Regions from separate parts of the Homo sapiens genome. Here all the other regions are linked to region 1. The links come from fine-mapping of genetic effects on gene expression. A gene starts in region 1. Each other region holds a variant in brackets. All regions are shown on one strand. Distances are between the middles of the regions. Region 1 holds the start of DCT (dopachrome tautomerase). Region 2 overlaps GPC6 (glypican 6). Region 3 holds the start of TRF-GAA1-5 (tRNA-Phe (anticodon GAA) 1-5). Region 4 has its middle 13 kb from the start of TRF-GAA1-5. Region 5 has its middle 21 kb from the start of DCT.

The links. PIP is the estimated chance that this variant, and not a neighbour inherited with it, causes the effect.
Region 2: its variant is the best candidate, but not a certain one, in a credible set for the expression of DCT in cerebellum (GTEx, PIP 0.55).
Region 3: its variant is the best candidate, but not a certain one, in a credible set for the expression of DCT in thyroid (GTEx, PIP 0.86).
Region 4: its variant is the best candidate, but not a certain one, in a credible set for the expression of DCT in tibial nerve (GTEx, PIP 0.60).
Region 5: its variant is the best candidate, but not a certain one, in a credible set for the expression of DCT in T cells (TOPMed, PIP 0.63).

What each region holds. Positions count from the first base shown.
Region 1 is chr13:94,476,668-94,481,772 of GRCh38, reverse strand. It overlaps DCT (dopachrome tautomerase), which reads left to right and starts at 2,091. Exons shown (of 8, transcript NM_001922.5): 1 at 2,091-2,812. The coding sequence starts at 2,518.
Region 2 is chr13:94,143,011-94,148,115 of GRCh38, reverse strand. The region is part of intron 4 of GPC6 (glypican 6); the gene reads right to left. Among named protein-coding and RNA genes, the nearest start is that of GPC6-AS1, 42 kb to the left of the region's middle. RefSeq lists an enhancer at 3,638-4,571. The variant C/T (reference allele first, on the strand shown) is at 2,054.
Region 3 is chr13:94,545,301-94,550,405 of GRCh38, reverse strand. It overlaps TRF-GAA1-5 (tRNA-Phe (anticodon GAA) 1-5), which reads left to right and starts at 684; the gene lies at 684-756. LOC124903191 (a long non-coding RNA gene) reads right to left here and starts at 1,658. Exons shown (of 2, transcript XR_007063836.1): 1 at 95-1,658. It also overlaps a transcript of DCT not described here. RefSeq lists enhancers at 146-325, 1-363 and a silencer at 896-1,125. The variant C/G (reference allele first, on the strand shown) is at 3,099.
Region 4 is chr13:94,534,314-94,539,418 of GRCh38, reverse strand. It overlaps a transcript of DCT not described here. Among named protein-coding and RNA genes, the nearest start is that of TRF-GAA1-5, 13 kb to the left of the region's middle. The variant CTCTG/G (reference allele first, on the strand shown) is at 2,490.
Region 5 is chr13:94,498,281-94,503,385 of GRCh38, reverse strand. It overlaps a transcript of DCT not described here. Among named protein-coding and RNA genes, the nearest start is that of DCT, 21 kb to the right of the region's middle. The variant C/T (reference allele first, on the strand shown) is at 2,473.

The DNA of each region.
Region 1 (5,105 bases):
GTGAGAAATATCTAAACCTTCAAGTAGAGAGGTCCAGTAGGAAGTTAGATAATATGAGTCTGGGGCTCACAACTGAGGTCAAAGTCAGAGTTGTAATTTTGGAAAGTCATGATAGCCTGCATTTAAGGCCTCAGACTAGCTGAGTTATCTAGCAAGTGTGGAAATGAAAGAAAAGAGATCCTAGGACTTCGACCTGGGGCATTCTGACATAAGAATTATTGACTCCATCAGTTTTAACATCCAAGAAATTTTATCTTAACATTTATGGAGCCCCAAGGCTTCACAAAAACCTGGAATAAAATTCCCAAGTGTCACAATGCTGGCATGAAGTGGCAGTCAATAAATATACATGGAATGAATGAATGAGCTCCAAAATAAAGGTTTCAAAAACCCCTGAGATTTTGCGATTTTAGAACCCCAAGTTTCTTCCCACCCATGATGTGTTAGGTTGAATGGTGACTTCCCCAAAAGATATGTCCATGTCTCAGAACCTGTGAATGTGACTTTGTCTGGAAAAAAGAGTCTTCTTTGCAGATGTAATTGAGTGAAGAATCTTGAGATGAGATCATCCTGGATTATCTGAGTGGGCTCTACATCCAATAAGTGTCCTTATAAGAAACAGACATGGAGGAAAAACACAGACAGATGGGGAGAAGGCCATGGGGCTGTGGCAGACATTGGAGCTGCGGTTTCAAGCCAAGGATTGACAGCAGCTGCCAGAAGCTTGAAAAGGCAAGGAGGATTCTAGCCTAGAGTCTCCAGGGAGAGTGCAGCCGCCTGGCTGACACACGCCAGTCCTGCCAACACCTTCATTTTAGACTTCTGGCCTTCAGAACAGTGAGAAAATAGATTTCTGTTGTTTTCAGTCATCCAGTTTGTGGTCATTTGTTACAGAAGCCTCAGGAAACTATTGCACATGGTCTCTTTTAGCTGATGCTGATGCAATATTTCCTTTGGAGCTCTGCTGTATTCTGATTCAGTGATTCTCAACTCTGGCTGAGCATTAGAATTGCCTAGATGTTTTCTAACAAAGGTTGGTTGGTGTCTGGAACATCCTCAGAGATTCTGATTCAGTAGGGCTGTGGTACAGGCTGATATTGGTGTAGAGTCAGACATAAGAATTGCCATTTAATTAGTCACAACAACTTAACATCAAGGGGTGGCACAGAGGTACAGGGGGTGGGAATACCTATATAATTGTTTCACCTTAGGAATTTGCTTTGAAACATAACAATATGTGTCTTTACATTCAAGTATATTCTTAGAAACTAGCTGAAGCCGTTTCGCATCCTTGTGGCACTAAGTCCTGTTTCCACTGTGAAACAGTTACCAAGACAGTCCTGTTTCCACTGTGAAAAAATAAATGGATGTTCTGACAGGTGGCCACCATTGCTGACCTGACCATTCTCCAGAAGCACCAGGAGGCATTGCTTTCTAGACTGAAGCTCAGTCATGCTTCACTTTAGTCTAATCAAAAAGATTTGCTTGCAAGCCTTCATTCCAAATGGTTCCAGTGCCTTCCATACAATCAGATAATGACAATTGTGAGTTTCTGGTGGCATGCTACTTCATGTAATTAAAAAAAAATTGCTGCGTAGATGTGCTGAATAGGAGAAGAGTAAGTTATTATTTGGAGGGAAGAGGATTCCCAATTGTGGAACAAAGCAATTCCTTGTACCCTGGTTCTACATAAATGTTTCTTTATTTTTGAAGTTGCATGACCCCCTGTTGTGGTCTTTTTTGCACACATGTCAGAAAGCAGCCATGAGTGCATTGTAGTTGGCAATGTGAGCTTCTGTGTAAAGGGTCTTTGACGAAGAGCTCACTGCATCTACTGACTCCCCAGGATGTCTGAGGTCACAAGTTTGGCTGGAGCACATGAGCCCAGATAAAGAAGATGGTTTTGCCCTCCTGAAATAAAGCCAGAAGTGATCTCCTTTATTGTGCACTTTGGGTCATGTGCTAATGATGAGGGTTTCTGTAATACTAATCCCCCTAATGAAGGCTTCTCCCAGCCCTTACACAAGCCCCCAAGGCCCCGTGGCTTGGCAAGCCAGAGAGAATAAAAGCAGCACGGTGTTTGGCTTTTGAACTGAGTTCAAGGCAATTAAAGTCAAGAGCTAAGGAGGGAGGGAGAGGGTTTAGAAATACCAGCATAATAAGTAGTATGACTGGGTGCTCTGTAAATTAACTCAATTAGACAAAGCCTGACTTAACGGGGGAAGATGGTGAGAAGCGCTACCCTCATTAAATTTGGTTGTTAGAGGCGCTTCTAAGGAAATTAAGTCTGTTAGTTGTTTGAATCACATAAAATTGTGTGTGCACGTTCATGTACACATGTGCACACATGTAACCTCTGTGATTCTTGTGGGTATTTTTTTAAGAAGAAAGGAATAGAAAGCAAAGAAAAATAAAAAATACTGAAAAGAAAAGACTGAAAGAGTAGAAGATAAGGAGAAAAGTACGACAGAGACAAGGAAAGTAAGAGAGAGAGAGAGCTCTCCCAATTATAAAGCCATGAGCCCCCTTTGGTGGGGGTTTCTGCTCAGTTGCTTGGGCTGCAAAATCCTGCCAGGAGCCCAGGGTCAGTTCCCCCGAGTCTGCATGACGGTGGACAGCCTAGTGAACAAGGAGTGCTGCCCACGCCTGGGTGCAGAGTCGGCCAATGTCTGTGGCTCTCAGCAAGGCCGGGGGCAGTGCACAGAGGTGCGAGCCGACACAAGGCCCTGGAGTGGTCCCTACATCCTACGAAACCAGGATGACCGTGAGCTGTGGCCAAGAAAATTCTTCCACCGGACCTGCAAGTGCACAGGTGAGGCCCATGCTCCAAGCTTGGTGGGGAGGGCCAGAGCTGGGGAAAGAGCTCCTTCTAAGGAAGAGATGAGACTCTTGACAGAGACTCTTAGATTAGGCTTTGAAAGGCAAACCAATGATGGTTTTGGTCGGAAGCATATTCAATAAGGCTGATGTGCTGGTTTATTCTTCACACCCTCTAGTACATCTAGTTATGAAGACTAAATAAATATGGCGTGGGCCAAGCCTGCTTATATGAATGCATGCCAACATACTATTGGCTTGTTTGTTGGAAGGGGAATTTAAGAGCTTAAAAGCGTCAGCTTTGAAACTCGGAGCAAGTCCTTTCAAGATGGATTCGGTGCCCTCTCCTGAAATGGGTTTGCACTTGTTGAAAAGGGATGGGTGAAGCTTGGCATTCGGAAGACAGGAGTCAAAGGCAGGTGTTCTGGTCTCAGCATTTCTCATGATTTGAACAGATCTCTCTCTCTCTCTTTTTTTTGGAGATGGAGTCTCGCTTTGTCACCGTGGCTGGAGTGCAATGGTGCTATCTCAGCTCACTGCAACCTCCATCTCCCGGGTTCAAGTGATTCTCCTGCCTCAGCCTCCCAAGTAGCTGGGATTACAGGCACCCGCCATCATGCCTGGCTAATTTTTGTATTTCGAGACGGGGTTTCACCATGTTGGCCAAGCTGGTCCCGAACTCCTGACCTCAGCAGGGTGCATGTTTCTCATTAAAGCTTATGACCAGGTTGTAACTTTGACAAAATTGTCGAGACGTGGCAAGACAGAGCTTTCTCGAGGAGCTGGGGGTGGGGGGGGCGGGCGGGGGGTTGTTATTAGATAACAATGGCTTTTTGTCACTCTTCTCTGGACTTGAACCGGACATCACAAAATTTGCTCAGTGTCCTTCCTTTAGACTCTGGTCTCTCTCATTACCTGTTGCTTTGACATCTCTGTGCATTTCTCATTCCTCTAGCTCTTTGGGGCTTTTTCAAATCCTCTTCAATCTTTCCCACCTCCAGTTTCCAGCAGCCATATGCCCTTCGGGAATAAACACTCAAAGCCTGGCAGGGGGCCACTGAAATACAAAAAACACAAGTGGCAACCTCAGGAAAGCCCTTGGACACTGTTGTAGGCTGGGTGGTTGCAGAAGACTTTTTCCTTTTAAAAATACTTTTTACTTCTCTTCTCATAGGATGCTGGAACATAGGAGGATATAGGTCATTGAGCTTCATAAGGGGTTGAATAGGTATTACTAAGGGAACATACAAAGGCCTGTGATGTTGGTGTAGGAATGACATTCGATTTTTTTTTTTAATTTTAACTTTCAACTTTATTTTAGATCCTGGGGATACAAGTGCAGGTTTGTGACATAGATATATTGCACAGTGCTAGGGTTTGAGATATGATTGATCCTGTCACCCAGGTAGTGTGCGAAGCACCCAGTGGGTAGTTTTTCAACCTTTGACCCCTCCCTCCCTCCCCTCTCTAGCAGTCCCCAGTGCCTATTGTTGCCATCTTTATGTCCATGAGTGCCCAGACATTAGATTTCTTTTTTCACATTAAGAGTTCTGGCTTTAGGCCTGGTGCAGTGGCTCACGCCTGTAATCCCAGCACTTTGGAAGGCTGAAGTGGGTGGGTCACTTTGAGGTCAGGAGTTTGAGACCAGCCTGGCCAACATGGTGAAACCTTGTCTCTACTAAAAATACAAAAATTATCTGGGTGTGGTGGCAGGCACCTGTAATCCCAGCTACTCTGGGGGCTGAGACAGGAGAATCTCTTGAACCCAGGAGGCAGAGGTTGCAGTGAGCAGAAATCACACCACTGCACTCCAGCCTGGGTGACAGAGTGAGATCTGTCTCAAAAAAATAAATAAATAAATAAATAGTTCTGGCTTTATAATCATTTTGTAGTAATATTTTTAATTCTGTCATTCAGAAGAATATCTAGGTCCTGGTTTTGCCCTGGGTATTAATCATGACAAAAATTTCAATAACATATTGGATATATATTATCCAGCTTTTCTAAGTTTTTTAAGCATTTGCTTCTATAGACCTTCTCTCAAAATTATCATGGTGTTTTAGACGAATGAGGAGCAGGTTGCTGGTGTGGTTAGCGTGATTGAAAACCACACTAACACAGTAACTTCTTTGTTCAAAACCCCAAAATACTTCTAGAACAATTATTTCTATGTCAATCAATGAAAAAGTGCTGGCCAAGCGCAGTGGCTCACGCCTTTGGGAGCCAAGCACTTTGGGAGGCCAAGACGGGTCAGGAGTTCAACACCAGCCTAGCCAACATGGTGAAAC
Region 2 (5,105 bases), 330 kb after region 1:
TAAGGACCACTAATCTCCTCTGAGAGATTGCTGGGCTCCAGCAGGGTAGCTGGCAATATATATACACACACCATTAATTATTTGCTGGAATATTTTCTGTGACATTGGTCTCAAGGTGCTCTGCTCAAATACTCTACCTCAGCAGAATCCCTGCCACAGAGTACTTGAGTAAAATAACTTTACATCAAACTGGATTCTCTTTGGCTCTGACCACATGACCAGGTTTCATGGGTCCACTTTTTTTCCTATATCTTATATAACTTTTATGATAAATGAGTACAATTCCAGTGATCTACAAGAATGTTATGAGTAAAAATGTGGAGCATGTATTCACTTAGAACACATGTGGAAGGGCTCTTTAATGTAGTGTTGTCTATGCCTCCCAGCTTACAGATGAGACAACCAGAGTTCTGGAATAAATGACTTGCCCAGGGTCACAGAGCCAGGGCCTCAGGGTAAGTGATCTGATCTTTGGTCCAGTGTCAGTTCAGTGTGCCACACTTTTTACACTAAACCAGAAGGAAGAGGCATTGGTTAATCATGATAACAACAACAGTTTATGCTTATTTTAAGTTTGGTAAGCATGGTATATGCATCATCTTACTCAACCTTCAAAACAATGCTACAACTCATACTTTATTTATGAGAAAATGGAGGCTTAGAGCATTGAGATAACTTGCTAAAGCTCATTCAGCTAGTGAGTGGTAGCCCTGAGATTTGACCCAGGCTATAGAGCCTAACATCCTGTAATGATGATGCCAAGCTGAAATTATCAAGCAAGGTGTTTGGAGTACCCGTATATGCATCTAACAGAGGTGACAGGAAAAGCAAAATCTTTCTATGTGCAAAGAATTAAGAAAATAAGGAGAGTTGAGATAGGAAAGACAGAATCAGGAGATAGGAAAATGAAGGACTTAAGAGGCTAAGAGGGGGAAATTATTTTTTGACCTGCAAATGATCTTTATAATCACTTCAATTTTCTAGTTTATTTTAGTCAGGGTCATCTGGCATTGGTCATTCTGTATTTTAAATTTAGTAGTACCCACAATTCTCAATATTCACTTTTAAAGCATACACTGATTTTAGGAAATCCAAGGTAATAACCTGCCTTTAGTGGGAGTGAAATGAACATTAGAAGCAGATTTCAAGAACAAATGAAAAATTCCCTTGCAGTATTTTATTGCTTTTCTGTTAACAGTGGAAATATATAAACCTATTTCTTTATTCAGCAAATTCAAACATGCATTGCTAGAATGTAATGTTAAAATAATTATCAACGCTCATTTTATCCCCAAGTTATCTAAATGCTTTCGGATCTGGTCAATCACATAATTAATATATTTCTAAGAAATTGCCTTTTGGTATCACTTTTGATATACAACAACTGGTATGGGACTTTCCATCTGCAAAGTGTTATATGATCTCTCTTTTTAAATCTTGTGAGGTATGTCATCAAGGAGTTGATTTATGATCCTGGTTCAGTAACCTTGGACATGTCTCTATCTTGCACATTATTGATAAAATGATTCAATGTTTGCAACCTGAGATTTGAAAAACACTGCTATCTGGAAACCTGAAAAAGATTGTTTTTGAACGCTATAATTGGTCCAAGGATGAAAAAAGACAGGCATTTTTCATAAGTTCAATTTTGCCATAGTCCCAAGTTGGTAAAAGGTATTAATAATAATTGTTGAAGGTAAATTATCTTCTCAAGGTCTGGAGATAAATACTTGATTGGTGAGACTGTCCTAGATAGTAAATTACAACTGTGTCTAGAGGAAGTCACACAACTTGTTTTTTTTTCTTTTATTTTCTATTTTTAATATAGTGGTTGGTGGGTGTAAGTCAATTCAGAACAACATATATTGCACATCTACAATGCACCAGGCACCCTGCTGAGTGTTCAGGATACAAAGGTGGATAACATGAAGACTCCACCTTCAAGGATCTCACAGTATCAAAGGTGAAAATAGCATGTGACATGATTATGGATCACACTGCGAGCTTCCACAAAGCAGAAATATCAGAAAACATGCATTCTTGCATAAGTTTA[C/T]GCAGTTTTGAATGAATGTCATTGGTTACTTGCTCATTTAAATTATTCATCTGATCCTTTTATGAGCATTTAATAAGTTCTAAATAAAATCTTAGCTCAGACTTCTTTCATTGCAGACACAGAGAAGTCCATTTGATCCTCCTGTCACCTGTCCAGTTGCAGCTTAATACTGATTTTCTCTACCCAAACCTCCAGATTGGGTTAGTTGCTTCATGCTTCATGTTCACTCAACCTTTTGTTTATACATTCACCATAACACATGTTCCCTTCTGTTAAATTACATATTCACTTATTTATAAGTATGACTCCTTTAATCAGTATCTCCTAGAGCTTAGGGTCCGCTCATCTTTGAATTCCCCCATACTTGGAAAAGTTCACACATTTATGGGAACACGTCATAACAGTTTACTGAATTAATGAGTAAGTTACTTAATGTAGAATCATCTGGACATAACTTCTCATATATACAAAGCTTACACTTCTCATGCTACCATTTTTTTTCTTTTTCAACTTTTATTTTAGATTCTGGGGGTACACATATGAGACTTTAAGCAAATCAGTTAATCTCTTTGGTTTTTAATTCCCAAACAAATATCAATATATTGAAGTAGCTAGGCTATATGACTGCTGACATTCCTACTTATTCTAAAATAAAATTATTTGGACACTTTACCATTGGCCTATTGGAAAAGGCCTAATGGATAAGGATATAATTTGACCCTAAATTGATAAGTTTCAATAAAGTCAAAACATTATACTAATGTAAAAAATAATGACAACAAATGCAATAATGAGTCTTACCATGTAGAAGGTGCTTTATATAGAATGTTAGGTAAATGGCCAAGTATAGATTTTAATATATTTTATCCATCCATCCATTCATCATCCGTCCATCCATCCATCCATCCATCCATCCATCCATCCACCCATCCATCCAGTCATTTAATAAATATTTGTTGAGTGTTTGCTAGGTGCTAGGCATTGCTCTAGGCAGTAAGCAAGAAAAAATAAAATCTAGGACTCCTAAAGAACTTACTCTCTAATCAATATTTCAAACTCTGTGCTTTTGCCCATAAGCAATAAGGTCTCCAAAGTTTTGTTAATAACTTTAGTAATATAAATATTTGATTCCCCTGTTTAACTAGGGCCTGGTTCCTAAAGATTTTCATTATATAAATTTAAATGTATAAAATTTTTCATAAAAGCAGGTATTCTAATGCTCTGCTCCATATTTTAAGAACTGCTAAAATTCTTTATTCTTATTCCAGGCAGTAAGAATATTAACTTCAGTTGGGCATTATCTTTCTATCCTCAAAGATCACTCTGAATTACACCAAATTAAATAGATTTAGGAATAAAAGAACAAATTATCTATTTTTGTTTGCATGTCAGGAACAGGTATTTTAGACAAGTCTTTGTAAAATAAAAGTATATCCTTTAGTTAAACTAGTGTTTGCACACAGATATCCCTCTCTCTCTCTGTCTTATACACACACACACACACACACACACACATACACACACACTCCCAAAGAATGATCTTTTCCTACAAAGGAACTAAGAACTGAACAGATAAGCTTGGAATTATTAGTCTTGAAAAATGGGTGTTCCATTTCTGGTGTGTGTGTGTGTGTGTGTGTGTGTGTGTGTGTGTGTGTTTTAAAAGCACCTAAGAGGCAAAGAGTAGAGGCCAGGTTGTACGAATGGACAGCAGCCATCATGGACCATTCATGGAAGTAAATCCACACTGCGTATATTTTGGGGTCATGAATTGGAAAAAGATAATGACTGTTCACTCTTTTATTAAAAAACAATATGGTCTCCATTTCAACCCTGATGTTACAGACCCTGCCCTCTGTGGTTACAGGTACTTGCTTGCTGCTGGGTGACTCTCAGTCTTTTTCTTACATATGCAAATAGGACAACAGCGCTATTAAAAAAGAGTGTGCGACAGAGGCTGGATACTTTTGTAATGATAATGCAATCCTGTCTCCTTCAGGAAACGTCTTCTTTTCACCATTAGGACAAAATCAAACGTTTAACAACTTCGCTTCAGTGAAAACAAAATATGCGCCTATAAAGCTATAATGTGTTGAAACCACGTGACAATCGCTGATGTCCAGATCAAGTTAGCCTTACTTTCAATTGCTATAATTTTATTTATTTATTAATTTTTGAGAAGATCTCACTGTCACCCAGGCTGGAGTGTAGTGGAGTGATCATGGCTAACTGCAGCCTGGACTTCCCAGGCTCAGAATTGCTCAAGCAATTCTCCCATCTTAGCCTCCCAGGTAGCTGGGACTACAGGTGCACGCCTGGCTAATTTTTGTATTTTTTTGTAAAGATGGGGTTTTGCCATGTTGCCCAGTCTCATTTCAAACTTGTGGGCTCAAACGATCCACCCACCTTGGCCTCCAAAGTGCAGGGATTATAGGCATGAGCCACTGTGCCCAGCTGCTATCCCTTTATACTCTCTTTCAGGCTGGAATGGGAACCACATAAATGGCATCTTTCTGCATTTTCTGATTTCATAATACAAAGTTAATAATCAGGTATCTGAGAAGAATGTCATGATTCTAAAGAGTGACAAAAAATTTAATATGATTTTTGACTATCATATTAAAAATCTAGATTCTAGAAATCAAATACTTTGGAAAGATAACACTGCCTATATAGAAATACTCTCTGTCAAAACCTTCAAATAAGTCTGAATTAAAACTGAAATAAAACCTATGAATGATTCTCTCACACTAAACCATTTCTCTTTTTGCTGGTAATAAAAAGTCCAACGAAAAATAACACAGCTAAACTTCCTACAAAGTACTACAAAGGGAGACAATCTCACCTAATCTTGAAAATAAACTAATGAGAAATATTAATTATATTTTGTTGTTTTTATATATCTTTTTTTTTTTCATTAAAAGGTAGCCAGCCATCTGGCTGGGCATGGTGGCTCACGTCTGTAATCCCAGCACTTTGGGAGGCCGAGGCAGGCGGATCATGAGGTCAAGAGATCGAGACCATCTTGACCAACATGGTGAACCCGTCTCTA
Region 3 (5,105 bases), 69 kb before region 1:
AGAATGAGCCTGGCACGTAGTGGGTGCTTCGGAAACATTTGTTGACTCGTGTGGGAAATAGCATTGACTGAATAATCATCGTTAGTGAGCTCACCCAGCATTTATTTGCCAGTCAGGCTCCATGCAAAGAGGTGATGATTAAGGTGGACATTTCCCGGGCCCGGAGCACGGAGAGGCTGCAAACTCCTCTCCAGAGGCCAGTCTGACGATTCCTGCCCCGTACACTCCTTCATCCAATCGTATTGGGCCTACACGGCTCCTCACCTGGGGCCTGGAACTTTTCGGGGAGCAAGGTGACGAATGTGGATAGTCACAGGCAGGGGCAGATCGAAGGGAAGGGGCTACCAGGCCTGGGCAGGAGCTCCCCGAGGCGACCCCGCTGCTTCGGATCTCGCGGGGACCGGCCCTGGGAGGACGGAACCAGCATCCCGAGGAGCCGCCATCGGGGGCCTGGACCCAGCTCCTGGACCGTGCGGGCTGCGCGCGCCGAGAGCAATCTAAGAAAGTAAGGCGCGTGTGCAGCGCCCAGTGGCAGCGTAGAAGGAGGGAGGTGGAAGAATTCCGACGACACCGTTTAACAGGACAAGGAAGAAATGCTGTACATGATCACCAGGAAAAGACAAGCAAGCCAGTTGGACGCAAAGCGCTCAGTGATAGTTTACTCAGGAGACAACCCAGAACGTGCCGAAATAGCTCAGTTGGGAGAGCGTTAGACTGAAGATCTAAAGGTCCCTGGTTCGATCCCGGGTTTCGGCAGCTACTTTTAAATTCTGACCTCAAAAACTCAAATTTTGTAAGACTCTCCGTCCACGATACCCTGGCCCATTCCTTCAAGCCCAAGCAAAAACTGAGATTTGAAGGGTGAAGGAGGAAATGAAACAGTCGTTCCTAACCACCCCCAGGAGCGAGGCCGCGCCGCATAGCCCTTCTGGGCCGTCTCCTGGCGGGGCTAGAAGAAGCTGCCGCGCGTGCGCGCCACGGAGCCTGGTGCTGGGACCCAGAGGCACCCTCGGCGCCGGAAGACGCGAACGACCCGGGCCGCGGTGGCGAGACGGGGCCGCGCGCCGCCTGGGGGGCTGGTGTGAGACCCGAGGCTCCGATGGGAGGAGGTCTGGTCTGTCCACGGGGCCAGCAAAACACCTTCATCCCAATTTCATCGCATTCCTTCTAAGTATCCGAATTTGAAGAAAAAGCAAAACTGTTGAGTGGTCAGATGGCCCCCACCTGGCGTTGCCGGTGAGCGGAACCCAGTGCTGGTTATTTCTGGCTAGAGGCGCACCGAGGCCGGCCCTGGGTCTGGCCCTGGGGTGGCGCCACCAGGTTACTTGCCCACCGGTGAAGGATGGCAGCTTTACAGCTCCCCGACGCATCAGACTAAAGAACGTTGGCCAGGGTCTGCACCGGTGGTTCTCAAAGTACAGTCCCCAGATCCGCAGCATCAGCACCGCCTGAGAACTACTTAGAAATGCACATTCTCGGCCCTGGATAGGCAGCTCTGGCAGTGGGGCCTAGCAGCGGGTGTTTAAACAAGCCACGGGTCTAGACGTTCCTTTCTGTTTCTAAAAGAGGCCTTGCTTTCCTAAGACAGTTGCTGTGAACCAGCTTTTTCCTTTTGCTGTCTTGCCCCTGCAAGTGTGAAATAGAACTTTGACCCGTGCTCGAAATTACTTTCTGAGATTTTTTTTTGTTTTCACGTGTGGGTGGACGTGGGTACTCAGGGGCATCAGCTTCCCAGCTACCTGTGGGAGCCCACCCCAAGGCCAAACTGGGTGTCCTAGAAAGAAAATGGAGGCCCAGGCACCTGATGTTATCTTGTATGGCTGGTGGGAACTGAGCCAGGACCCAAGGGGAGAAGTTGCAGGGATGTAGATCTAAATTTTAAAAATAAGAAATATCTATCTATTTGTGTCGTAGGAAAATAGAATAGTCAGTTTAGTGAGGTGGCGGGTTGCTGGACAGCAGATGAAGGACCATTGTGAGATGTATGCTTAGGTCTTGCTTGTTTTCTGGTTCTGCTGTTTTGAGGGGGAAGGGAAACTCATATTTATGAACTACTGTGTGTTCTCTCTTATTCATTCATTCTCTAATTGGACATTAATTCCTAACCTCCCACTACGAGCCAGCATTATTTGCTCTTCATAACAACCTTATGAAGTACATATTATTATCCCCATTTTATACATAACAGCCTTTCCAGGGTTGCAAGAATTAAGCATAAGCTATGTCTGTTAGACAGCTAACATTGCTACCTCCTAAATGTTACTGTAAGTGAAAAGCTGTTGAGATGTGTAGTCAAGACAGGTGTGCATAAACATACAGGTACTTGTATGAGGGAAATAAAAGTTTTTGTCTGGCTCACCAGAAAAGGCTCTATGGAGCAGTGGGTCCTCACCCAGAGAAGATATATATATATATATATATTTTTTTTTTTTTTTTTTTTTTTGAGACGGAGTTTCACTCTGACGCCCAGGCTGGAGTGCAGTGGTGTCCCAGGTTCAAGGGAGTGTCCTGCCTCAGCCTCTCGAGTTGCTGGGATTACAGGCACCCGCCACCATGCCCGGCTAATTTCTGCATTTTTTGTAGAGATGGGTTTTTGCTATGTTGGCCAGGCTGGTCTTGAACTTCTGACCTCAAGTAATCCACCCGCCTTGGCCTCCCAAAGTGCTGGGATTACAGGCATGAGCTAGTGTGCCCAGCCAAGATTTCTTAGGTATGGAAAGATTTAACAGGAGTGCCACCAGCTATCACATTTCTAAAGAGTAGGGAAAGGATGCAGGTTCTGGGGTGATAGTGACTTTCATTTCAGACAACCTGAGGTCTGAGCACTCTGCCCAAGGTAATGTTAGTGATGGTGAATCTATGCGGGTCTGCAGCAACCTCAATTCTTGCCTCCTCAGAAGAAAGAATTCGACTGAAGGGCATAAGGCAGAGTGAGAGATGAACACAAGTTTTACAGCGGGAGTGAAAGTTTTTAAAAAGTTTAGAGCAGGGTCAGGCACGGTGGCTCATGCCTGTAATCCCAGCACTTTGGCAGGCCGAGGTGGGCGGATCACTTGAGGTCAGAAGTTTGAGACCAGCCTGGCCAACATGGTGAAACC[C/G]CATCTCTACTAAAAATACAAAAATGAGCTGGGCGTGGTGGTACAAGCCTGTAATCCCAGCTACTCGGGAGGCTGAGGCAGGAGAATCCGTTGAACAGGGGAGGTGGAAGTTGCAGTGAGCTGAGATTATGCCACTGCGCTCCAGCCTGGGCAACAGAGTGAGACTGTCTCTTAAAAAAAAAAAGTTTAGAAGCAGGAATGAAAGGAAGTAAAGTACACTTGGAAGAGGGCTAAGCGGGCAAATTGAGAGATCAAGAGCCCTGTTTGACCTCTGACTTAGGGTTTTATACACTGGCATTTCTGGGGTCTTGCATCCCTTCTTCCCTAGTTCTTCCCTTGGGGTGGGCTGTCGCATGCACAGTGGCCTGCTAGTGCTTGGGAGGGAAGCATGCACAGTGTGTTTACTGGCGTTGTACCCATGCTCACTTGAGGCATTCTTCCTTTACCAGCTGAATGTTCCTAGAAGGTCATGTACCAGTTAAATGCTGCCATTTTGCCTCTTAGTGCGCATGCTTCAGCTTACTCGCCCAACTCCTAAGATCTTATCAGGAAACTGATGATGACCAGTTTCAGGTTTTTTCTGTTTGGAGCCTGCCTTTCCCTAGGGCTGGCTGCGACCAATTACCGTTTTAGGGAAACAGTGTAACAACCACTTGCCCACCACCTGTTGGTCTCCTGACATTCCTTGGTGGGGAGGGGGGCTCTCCTGCTGTGCTCATGCCTGACTAGCTCCCTACTGTAACAGGAAGACCAGCTACTGGCTATTGGTGTGGGTGGGGGAAGGATGGAGGCGCACACCTGGTTAGTACCAAAGATAAACCAGACACTAGGTAACGTGGTAAGGACAGATGGTAATCATAATGTACTATTGCAATAGGGAAGAGGGTCCAGCGTGAACTGAACTTTGATTTGTACAGAGGTGACTGGGCATTTTAAGGGACAATGAGGGATTAACGGAGAGGAACCAGTGGGGCTTCAGCAGAGTCAGGAAGGTGAAAACTGACAAAGGATTGACGCATGTAAATGCTGATTAGGCAGCTGTGTCTGCTAGCTGGCAATGATCAAAGTCTGGATTCTGTCCTTCCAGAGACTGGGAGACACTGGCCCTATCCTTCCTGATGATTACATTGTAAAGGAATGGTTTTTTACGTCCTTGATTGCCTTTGTAGGAGATACACAGCCATCTCAAAGGCACAGAGGAAGGAGTCACAATTGTAAGCCCTTTTTAGTAAGTACTCTAAGAAAGTGCCAGAAGCCTTTCATCAGATGGTGCATAGAATTCTTTTGTCAGTCTTGGGCTTTCTCAAGCAGGCACTCTGAGGGGGTTGAGGCCTGGTCTAGAAGGGGGCTCAGAGAGGCCTGGCTAGCATTTGGTCAAGGAGAAAATCTGTGTCATTAGAAGTGTGAGGAGGGGAGGGTGAAGGGGAAGAGTTAGGCCAGGCCTCCACCTGTTGGTTGAGAAGGCTTTTCAGGTCTTGTGACAGGGAGGAGTGATCGGGAAGCAGGTGGGCAGCATTAAAAAAATACACACACCGCTTATATATATGAAATGAAGGAAGACCACCATGTGAGAAAGCAAAGGCTGTTTATTCAGAGCTTGCTATAGCGAGGGAGTCAGCCACCATCACTGGCATTTGGGAGAGACTCAAAGGCAGGCAGGGGAGTGGGAGAGCTTTACAGCAGACACAAGGGACAGCTTCAGGTGTGCCCTGATTGGAGGCTGTTGGTCTGGGAAGCTGGAGTTAGCTAACTGGGAGCCGGCAGCCATGTGATTATTTAAGGCGCCTTTTGTGGTTGGCCTAAAGTTGGAAATGAGGACAAAAACTAGGAAAGCTGTCAGTTATTAATCAATTCCTGGTCATTTGGAATTAATTATTATAAAAGTTATTGTTTAGCTTCTCAGATTGTTATTTCCCAGACTTCTTGCAAGTCTGGCTTTAGCAGACGGGCTTGCTGGACTGTTTATTGTAGATAAGGGGCTGGTTTCCTGGGCAGGTTATGGTCACA
Region 4 (5,105 bases), 58 kb before region 1:
CTCATAGAGAAATGCACTCAGATGCCTGTTTATTTCATATCTTATTCCTTTAGCGTCACCTTAATTCCTACTTACCTTTCAAGTTCTCTCAGGTTTTTCCTCTTCATGAAAAGTTTTCCATAGTTTAAGCTAATATCCAGCTCTTCCCACTCTGACCATCCTGAGAGCTTGCCGTCTGCTATGCTCTGGGCATGTGATCCTGTCCCAACTTTCATTCTCTGTGTTGAATGTGTGCTTTCTTCCTCATAGCAAAATTCTACTGCCCCTCAAAAGGTGGGTTTGATTTCAGGAAGAATTTTCATGTTCTAGTAACAAAGCAGGGGACTAAGAATTTTGTGAAAAGTCATAAAAAGTCTATTGGAGTTCTTTGGAAATGCAGGTGTTAATGTGTCGCCTGGTGGTGGTCGGGACTGAAAGATGTTGTGTGACCTGGAATAGCTGGAGGGGTGTGGGCTGATAACCCCTAGAAGCTAGAGTAGTGCTGGGCTCTTAGAACAAAAGGAAAAGGGTAAGGACAACAGGGAGAGCCAAACCGCACAGATAGAAACAGACAAATCCTAAGAGTGAGGGAGGAGAAGCAGCTGAGTAGCTTAGACAGTTTATCTAACATGTTAGGATGGGGAAGCTTCTGAAAATGATCTTCATCCCAGGTAAAGAGAGAAACTGCAACAAGAGAGACTGAATGCAACTTCATTCTTTTTCAATCTGAGGTCTCAGTTGTATTTGTGATGGGCAGTGGACAGCCCATAACCTGAACGAACCTGGCTGAAAAATCCAAGTTCAGGGCTCAACACAACGGTCTATGGTTTATACCCTTGAATTCTTACATTGTAGCAAAGACGGATAATGCACCAAGTCCATCTGCTTTTCTCACTACAATAGATGAAGAAGAGGGGGAGATGTGGTATAAAAGGAGGCAGGGGAGAAGGCTAATACCAAGGTATTGGGGCTATGTGTATACATATGGCTTGGCGGGGAGGGGTGGTGGGAAGCACAGCCTCTGGAGGCAGGCTGCCTGGGCCAGAGCTCCAGGCTCACCCCCTGCCTGTGTAATATCCAGAAGTTCCGTAACTCTTCTTTGTTTCAGTCTCCCTGTCTGTAAAATGGAGAAAAATAAAAATCCTTATTTTATAGGGCTAGTGTGAGAATTAAATAAGATAATCCATGAAGAGTGCTTGGCATGTAGTCAGGCAGGTCCTGCAGGCTCAGTAAGCACTCTCTACAAGCTCCACCCTTCTTTCAGGAGTCACTTTCCGCAACATCTCATCTTGGCTGCCCGAGAAAACTTAGCTGTTTCTTCCATCCTGTACTCCCTATACCTTATCCACACAATAACCTGGATATCATCTTCTGGTTGTGTATTTTATTGGTCTGATTTTCTGACTGGCTGCTATTATCTCCTTAAGGTCAGGATTCACATGACTAGCAGAAAACTCATAGTAGGTGCTCAATGCATTTTTGTTGAATGAGTAAGAGTACTTCTCCTCTTTTTTCATCCTGCCAATGGTGGGTCACCACTGCATCATAATCCTTGGCTGTACTTGTTTTTATTATATTTCCTAACATGAGAATCAACTCTTCTGAGAGCCTACACTGACGTTCTTATTCCTTTTCCACATCTTATGTCACCTAGCCAAGTGCCAGAAACATTTTAGGTTCTCAAGAATTGCTTGTTTACATCTATTGACTTAACAGTAAGCAACTATTTCAGGACTAAAAAGGTTGTATGGTTAATTTAAGGTTATGGATGATTTTCAGTGTTTTCGTTTTTATTTGTTTTTTTTTCTCACTTGCATAATTTGTAGAAAGCAATAAAAAAGGCTCTACATCTTCTTCAACATGGCAGCACAGGAGAGCAGGAAGCTGTAAGTCTTTGTTAGTACTTCAAAAAGATCATGGGATTGTCTTAATCTAACAGAGACAGAGACAAGTTTAGGCAGTTTAGGAACGGCCATCTGCCAGGACACTAACTTGGGTTAATTTAGGTTGTAATCCTATGAACCAGGATCATAGTCACACATTACATGGTTGACATTCAAAAAATGTCTTAGCAACAACAGCATTCTCCCCATCTTTCAAGTTACTAGATGTTCTGACTGCTATTTTTAAATGGAAGGTTTGAAGAACTTTCTAGAGAAATGAGATTTGGGAAACCTTTCAGATGTAACTGAGATTGAGAACTAAAGATTTTGTGTTCAGAGAAATTTAAAGAAACTAACAGTCTGGCACAAATAGATACATGTCCTAATAATGGAAACATTTTACTTGATCCGCCAATTACCAATTCAATTATTCTTACAGGGTTACCAGGTGTGTTAGCTTGTTTTGCATTGCTATAAAGGAACACGTGACACTGGGAAATTTATAAAGAAAATAGATTTATTTGGTTCATGGTTCTGCAGGCTGGGCAAACATGGCACCCACACCTGCTCAGCTTCTGGTGAAGTGTCAGGAAGCTTTTTTGTTTTTGCTTTTGAGGTGGAGTCTCT[CTCTG/G]TTGCCCAGGTTGGAGTGCAGTGGCGCAATCTTGGCTCACTGCAACCTCTGCCTCCTGGGTTCAAGCAATTCTCCTGCCTCAGTCTTCAGAGTAGCTGGGATTACAAGCTCCCACCACTACACCTCCGCTAATTTTTGTATTTTTAATAGAGAAGGGGTTTCACCATGTTGGCCAGGCTGGTCTCGAACTCCTGGCCTCAGGTGATCTACCCATCTCGGCCTCCCAAAGTGCTGGGATTACAAGCGTGAGCCACCGTGCCCAGCCAGGAAGCTTTTATTCATGGCAGAGGGTGACACAGAGGCAGATGTGTCACATAGCGGGAGAGGGAGCAAGAGAGAGGAGGTACCAGACCCTTTTTAACAACCAGCTCTCATGTGAAAACTCATAGACTGAATATTAAATCATGACCATGGGGAGGGCACCAACCCATTCATGAGGGATCCACCCCAAGACCCAAACACCTCCCACCAGGCCCCACCTCCAACACTGGGGATCACATTTAAACATGAGATTTGGAGGGAACAAACATCCAGACTACATCACTAGGTTACACTGGGTTGGTCTTTAGCAGGCATGTTTGGGAGGTCCCCTTTGAAGAGCAGCTTCTTGGAGGCATCACAGGCCCTGGCTGCTCCCAGAACATTACTCTGTCCAATGTCAATGTTAAATCATCAGGTCCAGGCCTTTTGGTACATGGCATCCTTGAGGGTCGGATCTATCAACCCTGGTCCTAAACTGTATCGACCATTGGCTCCTGGTTGCAGCCACATTTCTGAACACAACCTTTTGTCTCCTGGACCTTAAATAAAAGGCTAAATTTTTCTAAATCTGGAAAGATTTTGTCATTTACTGGCTTCTGAGCTAGTTCTTGAGATCATTTGGAAGCACTAGCAAACTTTTCTGTGGTATTAGGGGTTAGGCTATTTCCTGTGAACACCTCTTTAAGATGCTGATGAGGAGCTAGATTGACTTTAGTTAACCATAGAGCCTCTACGGGTGGCAGGAGACATTCTTCCTCGAAGAGGGAAACCTGGGAGGGGCTACGCCATTTACAAGCACCAATATATTAATAGTGTTTTTTTGTGATTCACTGTGCCCTACCAATCTGAGGGTATAGGCGAAATCACAGTACTGGCCATAGCTCAGAATTTTCTGTCTTTGCTCCAACTATTTATTGACGACCTCTGCAATTAGAAAGATGCCCATTTGCACCTGCCCAGGAATGTTGCATGTATTTTCACAAATAAATCTCAGACTGCTAGCATCACAATTGGACCTCTGGTCCACTAGCTTCCCTCATTTCTTGCTTGGCCTCATGGGTTCTGCTATAGTTCCAGGCACTGCCTACATTAATGCTTACAGGGGTGCTGAGTATTGTGCTCTGCATATCTGCATAGGAGAGCTGCTGGTAGCTCTTGAAGCATCCTTATCTGACAGATTTATATGAAAACTATCCTTCAGTTTCTGGCAGAGCCTCATTCCACTGGGCTGGGTGGAGTGACAGATACTATTTCCATGTCATTTCTCCATATTATTGCCCTGATACTTACAGCAATAATGCTTCCTCCTTATTTAGCCAAAGGCCAAACGTTCCTTTGCAATCAACTCATGCAGGTGACTAGTCTTGAACCTCTTCCATCATTTAGTCAAACATGCCATATACCGTGAAACTCTGTGATACATACAACTGAGGACATGTGGACATATAAAATAGTCTGCATGAAAACAGGTATATAGTATATGTTCTAAATTGTATATATTAACAAGCTAAAAACAAATTTCTCAAGTAAGGCCAGATATTTGAACATTCCAGACAGCCTAATCAAGTGGGCTGCAGTCCCTTCAAGTGATGTTTGCAGAATATTTACTCAACATTCATTTGGGCCAGGTGCAGTGGCACTTGCCTGTAATCCCAGATATTTGGGAGGCTGAAGTGGGAGGATAATTTGAACCCAGGAGTTTGAGACCAGCCTGGGCAACTTAGCAAGACCTTGTCTCTAAAACAAACAAACCACATTTATTTGGATGGCATTGGGGAAAGATGGATGTTACGGCTAATAGCAACTCTCAGCTGTGATGTTGGGGAAATTATCTTTTGCCTTCAAATTTTCCTCCTGCATTCAAACAAGAGTGTTTAAGTTAGCTAGACCCACCCTCCCTAGAAGGTACTTTAGTAACTTTCAGATATTGCTTCAGATTGCTCTTTGAAGATCTCACTCCCTGCCCAGGGCAGCCGATGGCAGTAGAGCAGAAACTTGATTTAGCCTGTGCTTTCCATTTTTTCTTTCAAACAAACTGACTTATGATCAGGGTCCACTGAAAGCCTATGGCCACTCTCTAGTATCCCAGCAGGCTTCTGCTCCCAGTAGTTGACTTGTATGCTTGGCCAAAAGCTGCTCTTGTTCCCACACCTGTTTGTGCCAGTTGTACTTATTACTATATGAATGTGAAAAGCAAAAGACAAAGAAATAATTGGTGGTCTAAGAAAATTAAGTTGAATGCCTTGGCAAAACTTAATACAATGAAGTCATCAGCTGAAACACATCATTTAGCTGTAATGAGGGCTCAGCCCCCTGACTCATTGTACATTCCATTCGACTTGACCTGAAAA
Region 5 (5,105 bases), 22 kb before region 1:
TCCTTTTTTTGAAATGGGGTCTCTGTCACCCTAGCTGCAGTGCAGTGGCGTGATCTTGGCTCACTGCAGCCTCGACCTCCCAGGCTCAGGCAATCCTCCTACCTCAGCTTCCTGAGTAGCTGGGACTACAGGCATGCACCACCATGCCCAGCTAATTTTTTGTATTTTTAGTAGAGATGGGGTTTTTGCTATGTTTCCCAGGCTGGCGTTGAACTCCTGGACTCAAGCAATCCATGCCCCCTTGGCCTCCCAAAGTGCTGGGATTATAGGCATGAGCCACCGCACCCAACCTAACTGTATTTTCAAAGACTTTATTTCCAAATAAAGTGACATTCACAGGTCCCAGGGCTTAGGTCTCGAGCACATCATTTTGGCAGACATTATTTAAACCACCACGGTGTTTCTAACAATATTTTATAACCCACCTCTTTACTAGTTAAACCAGGTTTTCCTTGCAATGAGCCTGACTTGGGAAGCCTCACTGAGTCACAGAAAGGTGGGGACCTGGGGTGGCAGGCTCACAGTGGCTGGAAGTCAGAGGATTTGTCTGCATGAGCAGATGTGGTCTGGAGATACAGATTTCGGAGAGAGTGCAGCGAGGAGAGGAAAGGACAGCCACACGTTGAAGGGCTAGTAGACGAGAAAGATTTATAAAGATGACTGAGGAAAATGAAGAAAAAAAGGAGGACACAAGGAGAATGAGGTACCTAGAAGCTGAGGGAAAGGGGTGAACCAAGAAAGGAGAGGAGGGGGTCAGAAAGCTACAAAGAGGCCAAGCAAGCGAAGGACTGGCCAGATGCCTGCTGGGTGTAATCACAAGTTCACCAGCTCCTCGCAGCTGAGTGTTGAGGGCTGATGACTGAACGCAGGTGCAATAGTTAAGGATTAAATGGAAAAAGAGCAGGTGGAGGCTGGGAGCTCAGGCCACTCTCCCAAAGAGTCTGGCAGGGAAAGTAAGCCGAGAACTATGGCAATACCTGCTGGAGGAAGGTCCGTGTCCTTCCCCACCACAGAATCAACTGGAAATGGCAGAGGCAACAGAAGAACATGATGGTGAGAGAAAGGGGCAAAATTCATGGGATGAGGGGGACAGCAGGGAGGGCTATGGAACAGTGAAGGCACCCTCAGCAGAGCCTCAGAAGTGGGGGCTGGGGCTATGGAACAGTGAAGGCACCCTCAGCAGAGCCTCAGAAGTAGGGGCTGGGGCTATGGAACAGTGAAGGCACCCTCAGCAGAGCCTCAGAAGTGGGGGCTGGGGCTATGGAACAGTGAAGGCACCCTCAGCAGAGCCTCAGAAGTAGGGGCTGGGGCTATGGAACAGTGAAGGCACCCTCAGCAGAGCCTCAGAAGTGGGGGCTGGGGCTATGGAACAGTGAAGGCACCCTCAGCAGAGCCTCAGAAGTAGGGGCTGAGGCTATGGAAACAGTGGGAGACCCAGCAAGGGCAGAGTGAGGGAGACAATAATACCTACAAGATAGCGAACTTTGGGCTGCCTTCAGCTTCCTTAAGCTGAAACATGAGGACTTTCCTGACATGGTCTCTGCTCAATCTGCAGCCTTGTCCCTCATGAACTCTTCCCTTCTTGCACCTAGTGCGCCACATTGTGATGATTTGGCTTTTGTAATGCTGTGCCCTCTGCTTGGGACACCCTCCCTCACTCTCGCAGGTTTGGTGGTCTTGCCAGGAGTTTCTGCAAGCCTGTTCTCATTCTCTCTCTCTCCTCTCTCTCCTTTCTCTCTCTCTCTCTCTCTGTCTCTGTCTTTGTCTCTGCATAAGTACCGTGACTGCAAGATCCATGGCTGTCTTCTTCCCCATCCTTGTGAGCCTGGTGCCTAGTGCAGGGCCAGGCATACAGTAGGTGCTTAATAAACATTTGTTCAAGGAATAAGTCAAAAAGGAAGGAAAGTAGAAAGGAGGAACAGATGGTGACTAGAAAGGACAACTTACTTTTTATGTACTAGAGGCACTAACTTCTTTAATTTTTCCGACAGCCTGATCAGAGAGAGGTATTATGAACACCATCCACTTTTTATAAACAATGAAAATAAATGCTCAGAGAGATGAACATTTCCAAATTCTTTTATTTATTTTTAATTAATTAATTTATTTATTTATTTGAGACGGAGTCTTGCTCTGTCACCCAGGCTGGAGTGCAGTGGTGCGATCTCCGTTCACTGCAAGCTCCGCCTCCCGGGTTCACGCCATTCTCCTGCCTCAGCCTCCTGAGTAGCTGGGACTGCAGGTGCCCGCCACCACGCCCAGCTAATTTTTTTTTGTATTTTTAGTAGAGATGGGGTTTCACCATGTTAGCCAGGATGGTCTCTATCTGCTGACCTCGTGATCTGCCCGCCTCAGCCTCCCAAAGTGCCAAATTCTTTTAAAATCTATAAAAGAACAATTATTTAGAAAAAAAAGAAACTAAAAATCACTGTGTGAGGATGGCAGTGGTAGAAAAGTCTGGAAGGATCGTCA[C/T]CAAATGTTAATGGGGTTGTCACAGAGTGGTGCATTGTGCTATTCTGCTTTTGTTCCGTTTGCCTATCTGAATGATTTTTTAAAATGAAAATATATTTACAAAGTGAAGAGCAATGTTTACTGCAGCATTATTCTAATAGCCAAGAAAAGGAAACAAGCTAAGTGTCCATAAACGGTTGAATGGACAAAGAAAATGTGGTACACAATGGGATATTATTCATCCTTAAAAGCAAGGAGATTCTGTCATTTGCAACAGGATGGATGACTCTGGATGACATTATGCTAAGTGAGATAAGCCAGGCATAGACAGACAAAATCTGCATGATCTCACTTATATATGGGTTCTAAAAACATCAAACTCTTAGAAGCAGAGAGCAGAATGGTAGTGATATGGTTTGGTTGTATCCCCACCCAAATCTCATTTTGAATTATAGCTCCCATAATTCCCACATGTTGTGGGAGGGACCAGGTGGGAGATAATTGAATCATGGGAGTGGTTTCTCCCATACTGTTTTCATGGTAGTGAATAAGTCTCACGAGATTTGATGATTTTCTAAGGGGCTCCCCCTGTTGTTGGCTCTCATTTTCTCTCTTGCCTGCTGCCATGATTGTGAGGCCTCCCCAGCCACGTGGAACTGTGAGTCCATTAAACCTCTTTTTCTTTATAAATTACCCAGTCTCGGCTATGTCTTTGTTGGCAGCATGAGAACAGACTAATACAGGTTGTTGTCAGGGATGGGAAGTGAGGGAAATGGGGAGATGTTGATGAAAGGGTAAAAGCTTCAGATGTGTAGGATGAATAAGCTCTGGAGATCTAGTGTATAGCCCGGTGACTATACTTAACTATACTCTATTGTATACTTGAAATTTGCCCAAAGAATAGATCTTAATTGTTCTCTCACACACAAAAAAGGTAACTATATGTTATGGATATGTTAATTAGCTTGATTATCATTTCACAACATATAGGTATATTAAAACTTCCTATTGTATGCCTTAAATATATACAATATTTGTTTGTCAGTTATAACCTCAATAAAGCTGAGGAGAAGAGGGAAGGCCAGCTGTGCTTTCGGTTAGAGCATGGTGGGGGTTCAGCCCTCTCCTATGGAGAGAGTGAAGGGCTGGAACACAGGGTTGGCCAGAGTCATGAGGGGAGGTCAGTTTAATATTCTCCATGGCTTGGACTTGAGGCTAGCTCTGGGAGTCAAATCATTCCTAACTTATTGATTCCAGTGTAAAACTGAAATGGTGTCTAGGCCACCGATGGTGCACTTTGCTTATTTGTTCATTAAGAACTAGAGGTGTTTTGTATGTTTAAAATTAGGCCATCTAATTCATGCTGCCAGGTTTGCTTTTGAACATCCTGAAGAGAAAATTATTCTTTTATACTGCCATCAACAGCCACTGCTTGGTGCTTTGGAGAGAACGCACACACACACACACACTCACTCTCATGCACACTCCTTTGGTCCTTTTATTGCTTTGGGAATGGGAGCATATATCTTTATGCTTTTAGTCTTCTTTATGCTAAATATTTATGCCAAGTTTTAATCAGGAAGCTAAATGTGTGTCTGGAATTGGTTCCTTCTGGTGGGTTCTTGGTCTCACTGCCTTCAAAAATGAAGCCGCAGACCTTCACGGTGAGTGTTACAGCTCTTAAAGATGGTGTGTCTGGAGTTTCTTCCTTCTGGTGGGTTTGTGGTCTCGCTGACTTCAAGAATGAAGCTGCAGACCTCTGCAGCCAGTGTTACAGCTCTTACAGGTGGTTTGGACCCAAAGAGTGAGCAACAGCAAGATTTATTGTGAAAAGCGAAAGAACAAAGCTTCCACAGTGTGGAAGGGGACCCGAATGGGGTGCCACTGCTGGCTGGGGTGGCCAGCTTTTATTCCCTTATTTGGCCCCACCCACTTCCTGCTGATTGGTCCATTTTACAGAGTGCTGATTGGTCCATTTTACAGAGTGCTGACTGGCGCATTTACAATCCTTTAGCTGGACACAGAGCAATGATTGGTGTGTTTTTACAGAGTGCTGACTGGTGCATTTACAATCCTTTAGCTAGACATAGAGCAATGATTGGTGTGTTTTTACAGAGTGCTGATTGATACATTTACAATCCTTTAGCTAGACACAGAGCACTGATTGGTGCATTTACAATCCTCTAGCTAGACAGAAAAGTTCTCCAAGTCCCCACTCGACCCAGGAAGTCCAGTTGGCTTCACCTCTCAAATGTACACAGCTCCTGTCATAGTTCAGGCTGCTGTAACAAATTACTGTAAACTGGGTGGCTTCAACAACAAGTGTTGATTTCTCACAGTTCTGTCTGGAAGCTGGAAGTTGAGTTTAGTGTGCTAGCTGGGTCAGGTTCCTGGTGAAGGCCCTCTTCCTGGTTTATAGAGGAAAGCTCTCTCTGGCCTTTTCTTATTAGGGCACTAACCCCATTCATGAGGGCTCCACCCTTGTGACCTTATCATTTCCCAAAGGCTCCACCTCCTAATGCTATCCCATTGGGATTAGGGCATCAGTATGAATCTGGAGCAGGGAGAGGGGATGCAAATATTCAGTCCATAACAGCTCCTAAAGATTTTCTGCTCAGCTCTAATTTATTTGTTCACTTCTTTGACAATTTTAA